Linked DNA regions of Homo sapiens: region 1 is linked to region 2. Evidence: fine-mapped expression QTL. Tissue or cell type: whole blood. Region 2 holds a variant in brackets; the other region holds the start of a gene. All regions are shown on one strand. Distances are between the middles of the regions.

The links. PIP is the estimated chance that this variant, and not a neighbour inherited with it, causes the effect.
Region 1: it holds the start of GYPC, and the variant in region 2 is fine-mapped to the expression of GYPC in whole blood (TwinsUK, PIP 0.95).

What each region holds. Positions count from the first base shown.
Region 1 is chr2:126,652,168-126,660,271 of GRCh38, forward strand. GYPC (glycophorin C (Gerbich blood group)) reads left to right here and starts at 3,991. Exons shown (of 4, transcript NM_002101.5): 1 at 3,991-4,145. The coding sequence starts at 4,097. RefSeq lists enhancers at 3,641-3,930, 4,724-5,563, 5,021-5,270, 5,461-5,690 and a silencer at 4,021-4,390.
Region 2 is chr2:127,139,779-127,147,882 of GRCh38, forward strand. No RefSeq gene overlaps it. Among named protein-coding and RNA genes, the nearest start is that of BIN1, 37 kb to the left of the region's middle. The variant A/C (reference allele first, on the strand shown) is at 4,882.

The sequences.
Region 1 (8,104 bases), 490 kb before region 2:
AGGGCAGAAAGCATCCAGCACGGGTGAAAGATGTAGGCTGGGAGGCCAGACCCATCCCTCCTTTTCATGTTTTTCTGCCTGCTCTATATTCCCTGGAAGCTGGTTAGATGGTGCCCACTAGATTAAGGGTGGATCTGCCTTCCCCAGCCCACTGACCCAAATGTTAATCTCTTTTGGCAACACTCTCATAGACATACCCAGGATTAATACTTTGTATCCTTCAATCCAATCAAGTTGACACTCAGTATTAACCATCACACCTCCAAATGAGGAAACAGTGTGAACAAAATATTCACCTAAAAGAAGCTGTGATTTGTAAATAAGCAACTGACAGCATATTCGGCCTCTCTGGTAATCAAAGAAAATGCTGACACAAATAACTATGTATGTTTCTTTTCTATGGAATTAACTATGATTTTAAGTTTGCTGTTTAATTCTGGCAAGAGACTCTGAGATAAACACTGGTACTCTTGATTGGGAAGAAAGTAAAGGTCACAGCCAGAACTTATGAATGTATCAAAAGCTTTAAATGCATTTGTAACCTTTGATTGAGTAATTCTGCTTGTCAGAATATACCCTAAGGAAAAAATTATGAAATCCAGATATTTATGTTCATATGGTTATCACAGCACTATTCAACCAGCAAAGAAAATGAAACAACCTAGTAATTAAAATGAGTTAAAGAGCTTTTCTACTTTTACATGAGAAAATGCTCATGACATAATGTTTAGTAGTAAAAGCTCAGCACTTGAAATCACGTATTCAGTAAAATCTCAAGAGTATAAAGCAAATATTCGTAAATGCATAAAAAAGACTAAAGGTAAATAACCTTAATGTGCTGGAGATTGCAAGCAATTCTTAGGGTTTAGGTATCTTTTTGGCTTTTTCTTTTTTATTTTTTCTTTTTGCACAAAGAGCATGTGTTACTGTGATGAGGGGCAAAACCTTTCATTAAAGGCCCAAGCAACATCTACCTACCACCATCTGTAAGGGCTCACCCAGGAGACAGCAACAGCAGCAGGGGACCGCCAACTCCACTCCCAATAAGGAACTAGCACTGAGGATTTGGAAGGCAGTTTCCCATGAGCAGTTTCTTCCCTGAAGAGGAAGAGAAAATTCATCTCCAGGACTGGATCATACCATCTCACATCTTGGAGGGCTCTGCAGCTTGTATCAGCCACAGACAGTCAATGAAGACACAGCTAGAACCGTCCATCCCGGCTGCACTGCAGAGCAAGTTCTTGTCACTGTGCTGAACTTCTGGGTTCTCATCTTTACAATGGACTCTTGGCAATACTCCGTTTAAGAGTATTTATGGGAACTAGACAAGATAAGAACTGGTTTATTATTGCAAGATATAGCTGAGTTTTTTTTTTAACTTCATTAATAAATATCCAACACATGAAGACACACTAATAATACATTTCTTGACTTATGTCAGACTGTTACCATATAATTAAATTTTTCACATAATTATTTTCCCTTCTTAAGAGTCATTTATTTAACATTAGACACTTTCATAGTTAAATTTTCTAAAATATGTCAAATGTTTCCCTGTTAGCTAATTTGCTACACACTAAGACACACTATTTACTTTCTTTTTCAAATGACTTGGGGTCCTTACTATGAACAAAGTATGTGTTAGAGGAGGAAGGGGGCCAATATCTTTAAGTAACTCCAGTGTACTCTCATTGTAATTACCTCTTTAATTATTATCGAATATATTACTCACAACAGCCTAACTTTGCAGATTGCTCCAATTTCCAGGCTGAGAAAAATGAGGCTCAGAGAAAGAAAGTGAAATGCTGAAGGTTACGCAGCTAGTAGGCAGTAGAGTAACTAACCCAGATTGAGTTCCAAAGCCCTGTGGTCTTTAATAGCGCAAGGAACTGTCACATCCTCCAGTGATGGCTGGAGCTGAGATTGCTTTAGTTCTGTAACAAATGCTACTTCGTTCTTGTATCTGACCTCTGCAGTTTGTGGGGCTTTCAATTTTCACTGTTTAGTTCGTTAGTTTATTAATTTTTGGCTTATTTTCTGTAAGGAATTCTCTGCAACATTTTGATGCCTTCAACCTGTCTTACCCTAAGAAATTAAGGAAATCTCTTATGATTACGTCTAAGGCCAGTAGGTTCTAAATGAGTCTGTAAAAGTGACTTCTCTAAGTGTGCTGCAATGACCTAATGACTTGTCCGTTGTTACCTGGCAGAACTTTCTGCTTCTTTCCAACTTTCCAGCTGCATTTCAGATAATTAAAGTTATTTTCTCTCAGGACAGAGGAGCGGGACTACTGTTCCACGTAGACGTATGTGTATGTATTACCAAAAAAAAAAGTTAAACTGTTAAAGTAATCACGGGTGCAGTGGCTCACGCCTGTAATCCCAGCACTTTGGAAGGCCAAGGTGGGTGGATCACCTGAGGTCGGGAGTTCGAGACCAGCCTGACCAACATGGAGAAACCCCGTCTCTACTAAAAATACAAAATTAGCCAGGCGTGGAGGCACATGCTGGTAATCCCAGCTACTCGAGAGGTTGAGGCAGGAGAATTGCTTGAACCCAGGAGGCGGAGGTTGTGGTGAGCCGAGATCACGCCGTTGGACTCCAGCCTGGGCAACAAGAGCAAAAACTCCGTCTCAGAAAAATAAATAAATAAATAAATAAAAATAAATTAATCATTACTCATTGCTGTTTATTAAATGCCTTTTCTGTTCCCACTGTGATTCTACAATCACTGCCTCTGTAAAACCCCGGAATGCAGGTGTTCTTGCCTCCATTTTATAGATGAGGAAATCAAGACTCAGGGCTTCCCCACCAGGCCAAAGGCATTCTGTGAGTAGTTTATTTCAATTCAACATGGCTGTGCTGCACATGGCAGTTGGAGTAAAGATCTATCAGCATCGGGGGTTCTTCATGATCTAACTAAAGTGAATCATGAGTGCTTTCCCACTGCGTCAAGAAGGCCTGGAGTTTGTGCAGCCCGGCTAGAGGTGAGCAAAGCCTCTGTGTTGCAAATCTCCAGGGCGCAGCCTCTCATTGTATTCAATGCAGATGACAGTCCCAAAGGCACCGCCCATACATTGTACAGACAGCTGGCCTGGCTCTCCGGATTGTGCAGGATAGGCCTTAATGGCAGAAGGTAGGGGAGAGGTGGGCGTCACAAAAGTGCTTGGGGAACTATAAAGTAAACAATGAAAAGCAGCACAGGAAGGTTCAGACATCACACAGGAGAAGCACAGGGTGTTCCCCTGGGTGGGGATTTAAAACAAGGGCCTCAAGTTCCCTGCCCTTGTCTCTGGGCAGAAGGGGCAGATAATGCTATGATACATTTTTTGTAGGTGGTGCCATTTGACTGCATTTAACCAACAAAGGTATGTATCGAAATCCACGTGGAGATTTTCATGGCAAAAGTAGAGCGAATTCACAAACTGCACTGTGTCTGGCAGCTTCAGACAAAAGCAATGGGAACAAATCACGACTCTTGTCCAGCAATTCTTCCTGTTTTGGAATGATCTTTGCTCAACAGCCCATCCATGAGTACAGGGCCCCCAAAGGCCAACAAGACAGGGACTCTCTCCAGGGACAAATGCCCCGCAGCTGAGAGAGGCCGCCCAGCTATCCAGCGGCCGCGCAGCCAGCCAAGATTTCAACACAGGTCTGCCCTATTTGGTCACCATCCCCGACAGTGCTGGGCCAGGCCATCATGTCACATTGGGGAGTTTTCCCTGCACTCCAGGGGGAATTCTCAACCACAACCTCTGTATCCGGTAGTGGCAGATGGAAAGAGAAACGGTTAGAAAAGCGTGGTTCTTGCGCAGGAAAGTTGGAGCAAAGAAGAGTTCAGAAGTGGGCGGGTGTGTGTTTAAAAAAAAAAAAGGGGGTGGAAACCCCACCAGCCAAGTCTGCAGAAAAAAAATAAATGAAGTCTGCCTATCTCCGGGCCAGAGCCCCTCCCCTCGGCCCGCGCGGGAGGAGTGTGACCCAGGTGCCGCTTCCTCTCGCCGCCGAGGGTCAGGAGCCCGGGAGCGCGACCCTCCCCCGGCCCGGCCTGGCCCGGCCTGGCCAGTCCCCGCGGTCTCTGCCCGGGCTGACGCCCAGGAATGTGGTCGACGAGAAGCCCCAACAGCACGGCGTGGCCTCTCAGCCTCGGTGAGTACCCGCCGTGGGGAAGGGTCCTGGGGACCCACTGGAGGCCGCGGCCCGCAGCAGCCAGGGGCCGAGCCACGGCCACGGACGCCCTGGTGTCCCGGTCCGTGCCGGGCCTCCAGGCGGAGGAGGCGTCCGCTGGGCTCAGATCCCCGACTCCAGCCCCGGTTCCCCGGCGCCTGGGCTGCGCGGAGTCCCTGTCCCGCGTCCCGGACCCCTACGCGCAGCCTCCACGCGCTCCGAGCTGGAGAAGCCGCCAGCCCGCCCTCCCAGGGCGTGTCGCCCGCTTTCTGTTTCTTTGTGCGGGGCATGTGAAATGTGTGGGGCCAGAATTGTCTCCCTAAAGAACAGTTAGGTGAGAGTTCACATCACAAGTTGCTTCTGTGCTGCTCCCCAGCCAGGGTCCGACCGGCCAGGCTCCGGTGAACTCCAGGCAACTCCAGCCTTGCCCAGGGACTTGCTCGCTCCGCTGGGCGCCGCAAAGGCACACAGATGCGAGGGAATCCTGCGGCCTGGATCCTTTGGGGATTTGTAATTCCTCGCTGCTGGTTTTCTCTTTTAAACCATCACGTTTTCTTGCTGAGAGGAAATCATCTGTGATGAAAGTCTTTGTAGATGCTTGGAAACATTGCTGGGCCTCTCTCTGCCCTCTTCCTCTGCCGTTGGACTTTTGCAATAAAAACTACCATTTGATTTTACCAAAAAACGTAATGTACATCCCTCTTACCCCCACCCTGCCGCGGTCTGATTCTTAGAGTCTGTCAGAGAGGAGATACCCTGAGCCTATCATGTGACAATGATACCTTATTGATATGATAATGATATGGGTATTGGAGACACCAACTCTTTTATAAGTCTTTGAAATCCAGGGGGTTGTGAGGCCTCACCCCTCACCCCGCCTGAGCTTGGAGCTTGGCGTGGAGGAGTGCTGCTTCGGTCTACGTGTGTACACGGCACTCCATGTGCCTGTGGTTGTGCTTGCGTCAGCCTGGGAGTGCGCAGGCATCAGTGGTGCTTGGGAGCGAGGCCCCTCAGTCTGCACTGGGATCATCTGCACTGCCTATAAACAAGGCAGCCTCTCTTAGCTCCAGTTTCCTCATCTGCAAAGTAGGAAAGTAGGAATAATAACAGGAGATAACTCATCCAGCAGCACGAAGTGCGTATAAATGTCCCGGCACGGAGTCTGACACATCCTAAGTGCTGGATCCGTGCTGGGCATGTTTATATAATTGCACATGAGACTGTGGTTCCCGGAGCACGTAACTTGAGCATATGTTTATGTGTGTGTATACGGCAGGTCCTGGGTTAAAGGGACAGGAGCCACTGTCATTATTCCAATTCAGTCACTGAGGAGGTGAGGCTGAGAGGCATTCTCATGTCTGAAGAGGATGGGCTTGCCTGACCCCCGCCCCCGTGCCCAGCCCAGCCCAGCAGCCCAAGCAGTTCTCCAGGACTCAGGTTTCAGACCTTCAACACTTGCCTTGGGAGACAAACAGCGGTGCAGCCCTTGCTTGCAAGCCATTCCACATTAGACTTCGGATTGATTTATGGCAGGATCCCTGCTGTGCGAGAACTGCAGGGGGGGTGGGGGGCGGCTATTTCTTGCTGCTAACTCAGGCAGGATGTGTCTATATCCTGTCTCAGTTTATGTAGCTGCTCATCAGAGCCAGAGGTTAGAGCGGAGAGGACCCACTTCCGCCAGGCCGGCCTGCTCTGCTCAGCTCAGCTGGGCTAGGCCCCAATGCCACAGTTACTGCGCGTGAGTCATGCACAGCAATCCATTGCCTTGCCCTTGGATGGAAGGGGTCAAGGCTCAGTGAGAAGACGGCCAGGTTTGGCAGCTTTATATAGAATTCACCGCCTCTGGCAGAAGCAGAGGATTGCATTAAGTGCCAAATGAAATTCCACCTCAGCCATTGCTCAATTCCTCCAGATGTCACTGGCACTGGGAGTCACATGATGCTGGTGGTCAGCAGCTGGACCCTTCCAAGGGTGCCCGTGGTTGGGCAAGTATTTCTGGGGACTTGCAGAGCTCCCTGGGGAGCAAAGGGTTGTGAAGTACAAGGCATTCTGCGCTTGTGGTGGGAACAAGTGAACCCATCTGCAGTGAGTAGGAAGAGGTCCCCTCAACAGAGGTGAGAGGTTGGGCCAAGTCAAGTCAGTTTGCCTCTTCAGGTGGCAGACCTGTATGTACATCTATGCCTCAAGTGCCTGTCTGAGGCCACAGCCAAAACATCTTCCAGTAACTGAGCATACCCAGTGGGCCAACAAGCACGCTCTAAATACAAAACCAAACAAACAGTAAAGTTAACAGTGAATGAAGAGTTAAAAATAGGAGAAAGACACCTTCTCCCTACCTCAATGGCAATTACTTTATTTATTGAGGATAATCCTTCTAGAAGTAAATTTGCTGATACAAATATTTCTTATTTTACATAATAAAAATGCATTTTATATATTTTACTTCATCTTGTTTTTTTTCCATCAGAATATCTCTTAAAGGTTATACCTTGTTATTTTCTTTAATCAGTTCCTCTGCTGATGGGCATTTAGGCTGTATGCAGACTTCATTTAATTTTTTTAAACCACACACAGCAGTCCTGTGACAATGAGTAAGGAGGATTTTACATGCATGTGTCTGTAAACTGTTAGGATAAATTCTCCCACCTCAGCATTTGATTTCTGGGACAAAGTGTGTATTCATTTAAAATGTTAGTAGATCTTAAGAAACTACCCTCCTAAAGGTCACACCGGTTTCTCATGCTCACAAATAGCCTATGAAAGTCACTATTTCCCTGCGTCCTCACTCACACTGCATTTTTTATCTTGGCCAAACTGAGAGGTAAAACAACAAAACAAACGCTGTCACTTTGGAATGAGCCTCTGTAATTAAGTGAGACTGAGCATGTTTTCTTACTTCCATAAGAGGTTGTATTACTTTTCGGGGAAGTGTCGGTTGATGCTTTTGTCCATTTCCTGTCAGCACCCCACCCCCGTGAGGAAACGTGCCCCAGAAGTGAAAGGACATGTCCTCATCACATGACGAGTGAGGGGCAGAGCAGAGGCCAGAGCAACATCCGTGCTGTGGAGTCAGCCCTGGGTTTGACTGCCCTCCAATGTTCACCAGCTTTGGGAGAGAGAGGAAATACCTCAGCACCTCAGTTTTCCCATCTGTGAGTGGGAATGATAACAGCCACTTCCCCAGAGTCACCCGAAGAGCAACAGCAGAAGGGCCTGGACCTGCTCCCAGTGGCAGAGGCTTGGGAGGTGGCTTTTGTTAGCGAAATTTATTGGAGCAAACCTGGCCTGAGGATGCTGGTAATTTCAGGAGTCACCCTCCAGACAGCTGTTGTTTTTCGCTTTTGATAAAATAACAACAAACTTAGATGCCGAGCCCTGGTAAGGGGCTTTCCTGGGTCTCCCCTGCACACCTGCTATGATAGGCATTTTCTTTTCTTTTTCTTTCTTTTCTTTTTTTTTTTTTTTTTGAGACAGAGTCTCGTGCTCTGTCACTCTGGCTGGAGTGCAGTGGTGTGATCTCAGGTCATTGCACCCTCCACCTCCTCCACCTCCTGCGTTGAAGAGATTCTCTGCCTCAACCTCCCAAGTAGCTAGGACTACCGGCATACGCCACCACACCCAGCTAATTTTTGTATTTTTTGTAGAGACTTTCGGATGAAACACCAGAGGCTCGGGGGAGATAAGCCGCCATAGGGCACCCAGACACTGAGGGCGCAGCCAGGCTGTAGTTACAAACTGCCAGACCCCACAGGCAACTGAGGCCAACCCAAGGAGAGAGTTGCAGGGTATGTGGGCCCACAGCTTGTATGTGCCAGGCAGGGCCTGCTGCTGTGGCTCTGCACACTGAGGAACTGCATGCACAGACACTCAGGACCCGCCTGCCTCCCCCAGCTCCTCAGCCGGGCCTGTGTCCCACCCCAGTCCACCGTTGTGTCCATGCT
Region 2 (8,104 bases):
TGTCATTATGCTCGGCAAAGCACAAACCTTAGCCCACTTGGACTTCCTTCCTCTCCTTCTCCTCCCCACCTGCAATGTTAATACCACTTGAGCTTTTAGTTCCAGTTCCATTTAGACTTAGCAGCAAATTCTAATTCCTTTACTCACCACTGCTTCTTGAATCTGTAGCTTTCTCTTGGATTTATTTTCATTGTGTTGAAGTACCTCCTCCTACAGGTAGGATGGAAGGTGACTCATTTTCTCATCTGTGGATGTCTGAAATTGTCTTTACATATTTTACCTTCACACTTGAATGATGGCTTTAGCCGATTCAAACATGTGTCCCTTAGATCTCTAAAAATATTTCCCCTGGGTCTCTGAAGATCTTCCAACATGCAGTGTTGTAGCTAAATCTAATATTAGTCTGCTTTCTCTTAGGAGTAATCTGTTTTCCTTTTCTCCATCCTTCATGTTCTAAGTTTCAGCCCAGCCAGTCTATCATTTTCTGTTCTGCTTGTCATGAAGTGGGCCCCTTCAGGATGAGGACTTTTGTCTTTTGTAGACTTGAGAAATTTCCTTCTCTATTAATCTTAGCGTTCCCCACATCCAACCTCTCTAGTCCCTCTTTCTGGAGCTCCTATTTAAAAGGTATTAACATTTCTGAATCTAGTCTTCATATATCCTCACTTTTATTTTATGCTTTCTATCTCTTCTTTTTGCGGGGCATTCTAGATGAAGTCCTCAATTTGATTTTCCAGTTCACTAATATGCTATTATTGACCTACATCCAGTCTGATCATACTCCAAAAGCCCCTTTTTGAATATACCTTTGAGCGTCTTCTTTTTTATTTCTAAGGCCTCACACCGTTTCCTCTCACAGCTTTCTGAGATTAACTGTGCTTCGTCCGTGTGCTCTGCTTGCTGTTTATCTGGGTATCAGTCTGTTTCCTGTGCTCTGCGTCCCAGTCATGGCAGTGCTTTCCTCAGTGTTCAGCGGCTCTGGTGTGTGCTCGTCTTGTGTTTGAGGTTCTTTGTTACCCAGTCTATGGGTGATGCCTCCAGCCACGGTGTGGGAGAGATGACCGTGGGTGGAAAACAAGCTGGTGGACGTGGTGTGCCTGCATCCGAGGTCCGTTTGTCCAGAGTGTCACCTTGCCTCCCTAGGCTGGGCGTTCACACTGGCAGGAGGGAGACAGAGATCCCTGCTGCCTGCTATTTGGCTAAGTGGGAAAGGTGTGGTGGGAGGAGTAGATAGCTGGCTGGCTTTGTGGTTCCTACTGCAACATCCTAACCCACGACCTACCAGTCACCACCACCCCATTCACCATCTTCAAGCTTAAATTCCCTTCAAAACTGCCTATGACAGCAGGTCTCCCTATACGTATTTTGGGCAGTGGTTTCTTCCTTTCAACCCCACCAATTTCCTTCTTTCAATAATTCCTCGCAACTTTAAATCCACCGAGGCCCCTTCTCGTCTCCTAGAACATTTTTGGATGACATGTATTTATTTTTTCTGGTATTTCTAAGGGTTTGGGACAGGAAAAAGTGGTTGGGGTTCAGTCTGCCATTTTTAGCTAATTTCTAAATAGATTTTTCAAGTGCTCAGAGCAACCCTATGAGCTAGGTATTAGTAATAACTCTCAATTTACAAATGAGGAGACAAGCTTAGAGAAAAAAATACAAAATTTTCTCAAGATTTCACTGCCGGCAAAGAGCAGCACTACGTCCCTAACTCAACTCTGTTCAACACTAAGCCCACTGCCGTCCCATGCGGGTAAGTCGAATGCAAAGCTCTGCCCCGTGATTTTTCCAAAGCATCCAGAAAAAGCCTTACAACCTCCCGGGCTTCTGCTTCTGGAACACACTGGAGGACCACTGCAGCAGGCCATGTCTCCAAAACTCTCCCAATGATCACAGCCGCTAATTCCATTCACTCATGCACACACTCGTTAATGTAGTATACACAGAGCATAGCCTGTGCTACAGACACTGCCAGAACAAAACAGACATGGTCCCAGCTCTCGCGGAACTTCCTGTCTGCTAACAACCCCTCGTGTTACAGATGAAGACTCGAAAACCAGAAAGGAAAGGACTTGCCCAGGATCACACAGTCAGTTAGAGGCAGAGTTGCTGTCAGAATGCAGTCTCCTTACTCCCAGCCCAGTACCCCCCTTATCTTTTTATTTCTTATTAATATTTTATTTATAACTAATACATAATAGCCATACATGTTTATGGGGTACAGTGTGATGTTTCAATGCATATATACATTGTATCATGATCAAGTCAGGGTAATTACCATATCCATCACTTTAAACATTCATCTCCTGTCTTTTCTAAATAAGTAACACATGAACGTTATTGAAAAATTAGAAAATACAGGTGAACAATAAAGGAAGGGGTAAAAAATCACCCATAGCCCCATCTTGCAGAGGTCCAGGATGAACATTTTAGCATTTATCCTTCTAGACATTTTTCTATGCATACGTGTATTTTTTTCTCCTAACAATATTTTTAAGGTCTTACAACATTTGTTTTATCTTACAAAAATACAATAATATTATACACATACGATTTCTCCTTAAGATATACTGGGCAACTTTTACATATTTTAATGAAACATTTCATTTCATTCTCATTTATATAAAATCTATCCCCGTAACACATTTTTCTTGATTAAATGATTCACACAGAAAGTTTATGAATTTCAACTACATTAATAAAGATGAATGACACCATTTTCATAAAGAAAAAATAAATGGCATATGAAATAAGGTAATATACTGAGTATTACAAGTAGACCCACAGCTAGATGTTTTCTATAGCAAAAACTACATGGTTTAGGAAATTGGTCGCCAGAGTTTAGAATATATCCCCACTTTGACTTGAGTCCCTGTACCTATATTATTAATAAGCACTTATCTATCTTTTTTTAAAGCATATTGTGAAAAATGTTCCCAGGTCAACAAATACTGCTGTATCATTCTTAGTCGCTATACAATACCCTACTGTGTGGTTGTATTACACATCAATACCCTATTGTTGGAAATCAAGGCTGATTTCCAATTTTTCACATTTACAAATCAACCCTTCAGTTACTATTCTCATATCTCATAATACTAATCTTCAGCTAGCTTTGTCACCTGCATGATCTTTACCTCTTTATGTCTCAGAGTCCCCATCTGCAGAACAGGATTAAGTGGCCCAGACTGCACACCATGTTTGTCATTATTAAAGGAGAAAGGCCTGGTGAGGCTGCTGGTTCCAGCTGCTGTGTGATGGTGATAATGATGAGTTACCACTTGATGTCCTAGGAGTCCTAACCTGTATAAAAGAGAAAAAAATGAGGGCCCCTGGTCCACCTCAAACATTCCCCAAAGGATTAGCTTGAGTCTAGCACTAAGGGGATGTCACACACACAGCCATCTCCGTTGTAAGTGGACTTGAGGGTCACCAGCTTTCCACAGCCACCATCCTTCTGCTCCTCCAAAGGTCCTCTCACCTCTGCAGAGCACATGTAGACTGGTGAATTTCCAGGAGTGAGCAGTCAAGGGTAGTGGAGACAGAGGGTCAGTTGGATCCCTCAGCTCTGGAATGAACAGGAGTGACCAGAGCCAGGATCTTACAAGAGCTAGTTCTCCTGCTTCTAAGCCTTGCTATCCAGGAATTCTACATGTCAGACACAGCACAGCCTGCTGGCTGCTCTCAAAGAACCCAAATCAAGATCAATTCACAGGCTGGAAACGGTGGCCCATGCCTGTAATCCCAGCACCGGGAGGCTGAGGTGGGAGGATTGCTTGAGCCCAGGAGTTTGAGATCAGCCTGGGGAACATAGTGAGACCCTGTCTCTACAAAAATAAAATTAGCTAGGTGTAGTGGCACCGCCTGTAGCCCTACGCAGGAGGCTGGGGTGGGATTACTTGAGCCCAGGAGGTTGAGGCTACAGTGAGCCATGATCATTCCAGCCTGGGTCACAGAGTAAGACTCCATCTCAAAAAGAAAAAAAAATTCACAGAGGAGGTGAACATCAGAGCACATCCCTAATTTAAAGAAAAAGGCCCTTTTCCCACTTTTATTGCTTTCACTTCCTGTTCCTCTTTAGTGTGGAAACCAGGAGGGTCAGGAGAGAAAGTTCAGAGAGAGACAGGGACCCGCAGGGAAAGCACAGACAGGCCCATCACAGCCTTCTCACATCTCACAGTGGGCGGAGGAGAGACGAGGCCGACCCACAAGTGTTGCCTCTAATTCTTACTGAGAGCTCAATGTTGTCATTTCCATTTTAGAGAGCAGAAAGTTGTTCTAAGAGATCAACCACTAATATTAAAGCTAGTATTTAAGGAACGCTGTGTACCAGGAAGCTGTTAGACACACACAGGTCATTCTCGCTATGAGAACAGAGACTAGTGTTATTCCTGTTTTGCAGATGATTTAACTGAGACACAGGGAGACTCTGGAGTCAGGTCTGTGGCCTCTTAACCACTGAATCATACTCTCTTCCAAACCAGGCTTTGAAAGCAAAGGGCTACTGATTTCCTGGGCCTGCCCACCCGGTGCTCTCTCCTGGGCCGTCTGCCCCAGGGCCTTCCTGGCTCCTGATGCAGAGGAAACTTTCAAGGCTGGGGCTTCAGGGACCAACGCCTTCTTCTTCAAGGACTTTGAAGAAAAACTGGAAAGTGTGACAACCCTAAAAATTCATTCATTCATCCATTTGTTTATTTATTCACTTATTCAGCACAGATGCATTGAGCATTTACTCTGGCTGAGCCAAGCCCTGGAGCAGTGCTGGCAGCATGCAGATGAGGCAGGCACTGCCCTCTGATGAACAGTCCTTCAAGCCGCAAATCTCTGTCCCTCGGAATACTGAAGACATTGTTCCATTGCCTCCTATTGGCCATTGTTGCC[A/C]TCTGATGTTACTTAAGTATGAAATAAAAAAAAAATTCTTTCAAATTCTGTGTATTACTTTTTTAAAACAACTACTAAATTGTTGTTTGGACCTAACTACTTAAATGGAACTATTAGGTGCTTCTTTTGGCCTAGGAAAAGCCATGAAAACATTTCTGAAACACTAAAGGCACCAAGAACCAAGAAAGCTTGGGAAACTCTGCTCTAAGATAAATTCCTACCATTGTATTTGCTGCAGCCGCGGCAGGTTTGTCTTTTTGTATATATACATGAATCCAACTGTCTTCTAGAAGAATTAAATTTAAATTTATAATCTAACAATCAGACAGAGAGAAAGGTTAAAAGTGACATTGATGTAGAGCCTCCAAATAGCTGATTTCTTTCCTCCAACAGACTTTCTTGTCACAAAGAAGCCAAAGACTTTCTTGGAATTATCATTTATTTCCATATATGCAAATTATGCATTTTTATTTTTCAAGTCTATGGACTTTTAGGGGGTTTTTTGAAAAGCACTGGGAGGGTTTTTTATAAGTATGCATCAACATGCCAACAATTGTTTCTCTCTGGATAAGGGATTTCCAGCAATTATTCCTTTTTTCTGTAGAACTTCCTGTATTACCTGAATTTACAATGTTCATAGTCAACCTTTTTATTCAGAAGAAATAAAAACCCATCTTGAGAGGAAGAAAAACTGAATATATTGGATTAAATTTGTACCCAACTTCCATTAATGAGAGCTTAGGACACTGTACTAAAATATCCACCTCCTGTCATCCTCCTTTTGAGAAATGAAACCCCTGGTCATAAAAATAGCCTTTGCTTGCAGTTAGAAGGGAGAGGATTAGAAGGAAAAAAAAAAGGAAAAGCAGAAGGAAAACTGCCTGTTAGCAAATCTAAATTCAGATGAATGTCTGAGGGGCTGAGAGATGGTGCTGGGCCAGAACCAGCTCCCTCAAGTTCCCAAGACCTCTGTGGGGCCAAGAGGGGCTGGGGACTTCATGCAAGGTGCTGATTTCAGAGGCAGCTGTGATTAATTTTAGAAGGCCCTGACATTCTAACTGAGTCATCCTGAGGTGGCCCGATTGGAACTAATTGGGTGAGCCCATTTCAAGCTGGCTGTCTTCTCAAGTGTCCCAACCCTCTGGGGTTCTTCCAGCTCCTGGAATTGGAAGGTCTTGATCCTGTCAGCAAGTGCCATCTCACCAACAAGGAGGGCCAGGGTCTGCCCACCCAGAGTGACAGGACCACCTCAAAACATGCAAAGAGGGTCCTGGCAGCTCTGTGTCCATGGGCAACTCAAAGACAGCCAGGATGATCACTCCTGGGAAGCTGACTCCAGTCTTTCCCATTACACCAGCAACTATAAAGCACTTACTGTATACAAACACCATGCAGCAACCATTCCCAAAACTAATTATTCATATTCCCTACAGAGCTTATTAAAAATATAAATGCCTGGGACCAGCCCTGGGCAGGGGCCCCTGGGGGTTTGTCAGGTAGGCCAGGTCTGGGAGCCACCATTGTGCCGCACCCAGAGCTGAGTGGCATGCAGACCCTGCCCTCAAGGTGCTGGCAGTCTGCTGAGAGCCGGGGCTGTGGTCACAGGAAAGGGACTGTGCTGGCTGATGGTCCCGGCCACGTGTTCCACTCCTAGGCCCCATGAACACATGGCTGCCAACAGGGTGGTCTCCAGAGGAAACTGGGGTCGTTGTTATGGCAAAGAGGATGCTGCGCAGGCACAAGTAGTGACTGTCGTCCTCAGCCTGATCTCCCAGGAGTTTAACATCCCGAACAGCTCCCACGGCACAGAATCAGGGAAGTACCAGGCACCAATACCGTCGCCGGTGCACCCAGCCCCACTCGCACTCCTCTACCAGGCATCCCTCTTGCGAGGGTTTGCGCCTCCCCTCCACCAGGTAGTCTGACCCGCCTCCTGAGCTCAGCAATTGGTTCAGAGGAGAGCACCTGACTCAGGTAGGGCCAATTAGAGCCCTTCCCAGGGATTTTTCAACTCGGGAGCCAGGAGGAAGCCCATTAGGCGTCCAATACAAGAGGAGGCAAACCAGCTTCTACAGCCATCTCCTTGGCTGTATGGAAAAGCCCAGTGTGCCATGGAAGAGAAGGCAACATCCAGGCCACAGGGGAGATGGTGTGCTGGTAGCAGTGAGTTCCTGGTTCCATCACCCTGGCTACTACCCAGGTTTGGCTTGGGTTTCTGTCACTTGCAACCAAAGATTTGTAACTAATACTTACGTGTACATCAGGTTGTCCAAAAAGAGGATGGGTAGACTGGAGAGGAAATGCTGGGGCCAGAGCCCTTCCTCACAGCCCAACAAACCTGCTTCTCAAAGGGTGCTGACCAGTTCATCAGCCTAATTCAGGTTTAGTCATTCAAAAAATTCAACCAGGGAGGTTTGGTTAAGTCAAGGTATGCTTCCTGGAGGAGGGGAATTTAAGGCTGGATTTTGAAGGGAGAGACCACAAGGCACTCCCAAGCAGTACTGCAGATGGAGGAGCTCTATTCCAGGAAAGGCTGTAAATACTTCCTGACTCGCAGAAAGATCTTCAGAGACACACATACTGTCCTCTCGCTATTCTTAGCAGCATGTCATGCAGGGAGGGCCCAGGATCCCTGTGGCTGCACGTCCTGGGGGAAAGATGAGCTGGCCCCTCAGCCTGCTTAGTTCCTGAGCTTAGCAAGTGAGCCCGGCTCACACTGCAGCCGGGGATTAAAGCCGAGGGGCTCCAGGAAGCCTCTTCTGAGAGTGCCGGAGTTGGAAGTGCGTCCAGCCAACAGGCCTCTTTAATTCCAAGGGTCTGGGCTGAGGCATCCTGACAGCTCGGGGGACCCCGGCCCCCAAGGGCTGCATAGCAGTAGAAAGTTTACCCTCATCTTGATAACTTTGCCTAGACTTCTGGACTCACCTCTGTCCCAGCATGGGACATGCAGATTGACAGGGCCATCCACAGGGTCAGAGTTTCCTGGAGTTTCAAGTTTTCTCCTAAAGATATTCACATGTATTGTTTAACAGCTTAAGACATCATTCTCATACCATACAATTCATCCATTTAAAGTGTACAATTCAATGGCTTTTAGTGTATTCACACAATTGTGCAACCACCACCACAATCAATTTTATAACATTTTCATTACTCCAAAAAGAAACCACCTCCAATTGCTCCATCCCCAATACCCCTCCCAATCGCTCCATCCCCTGTAGCT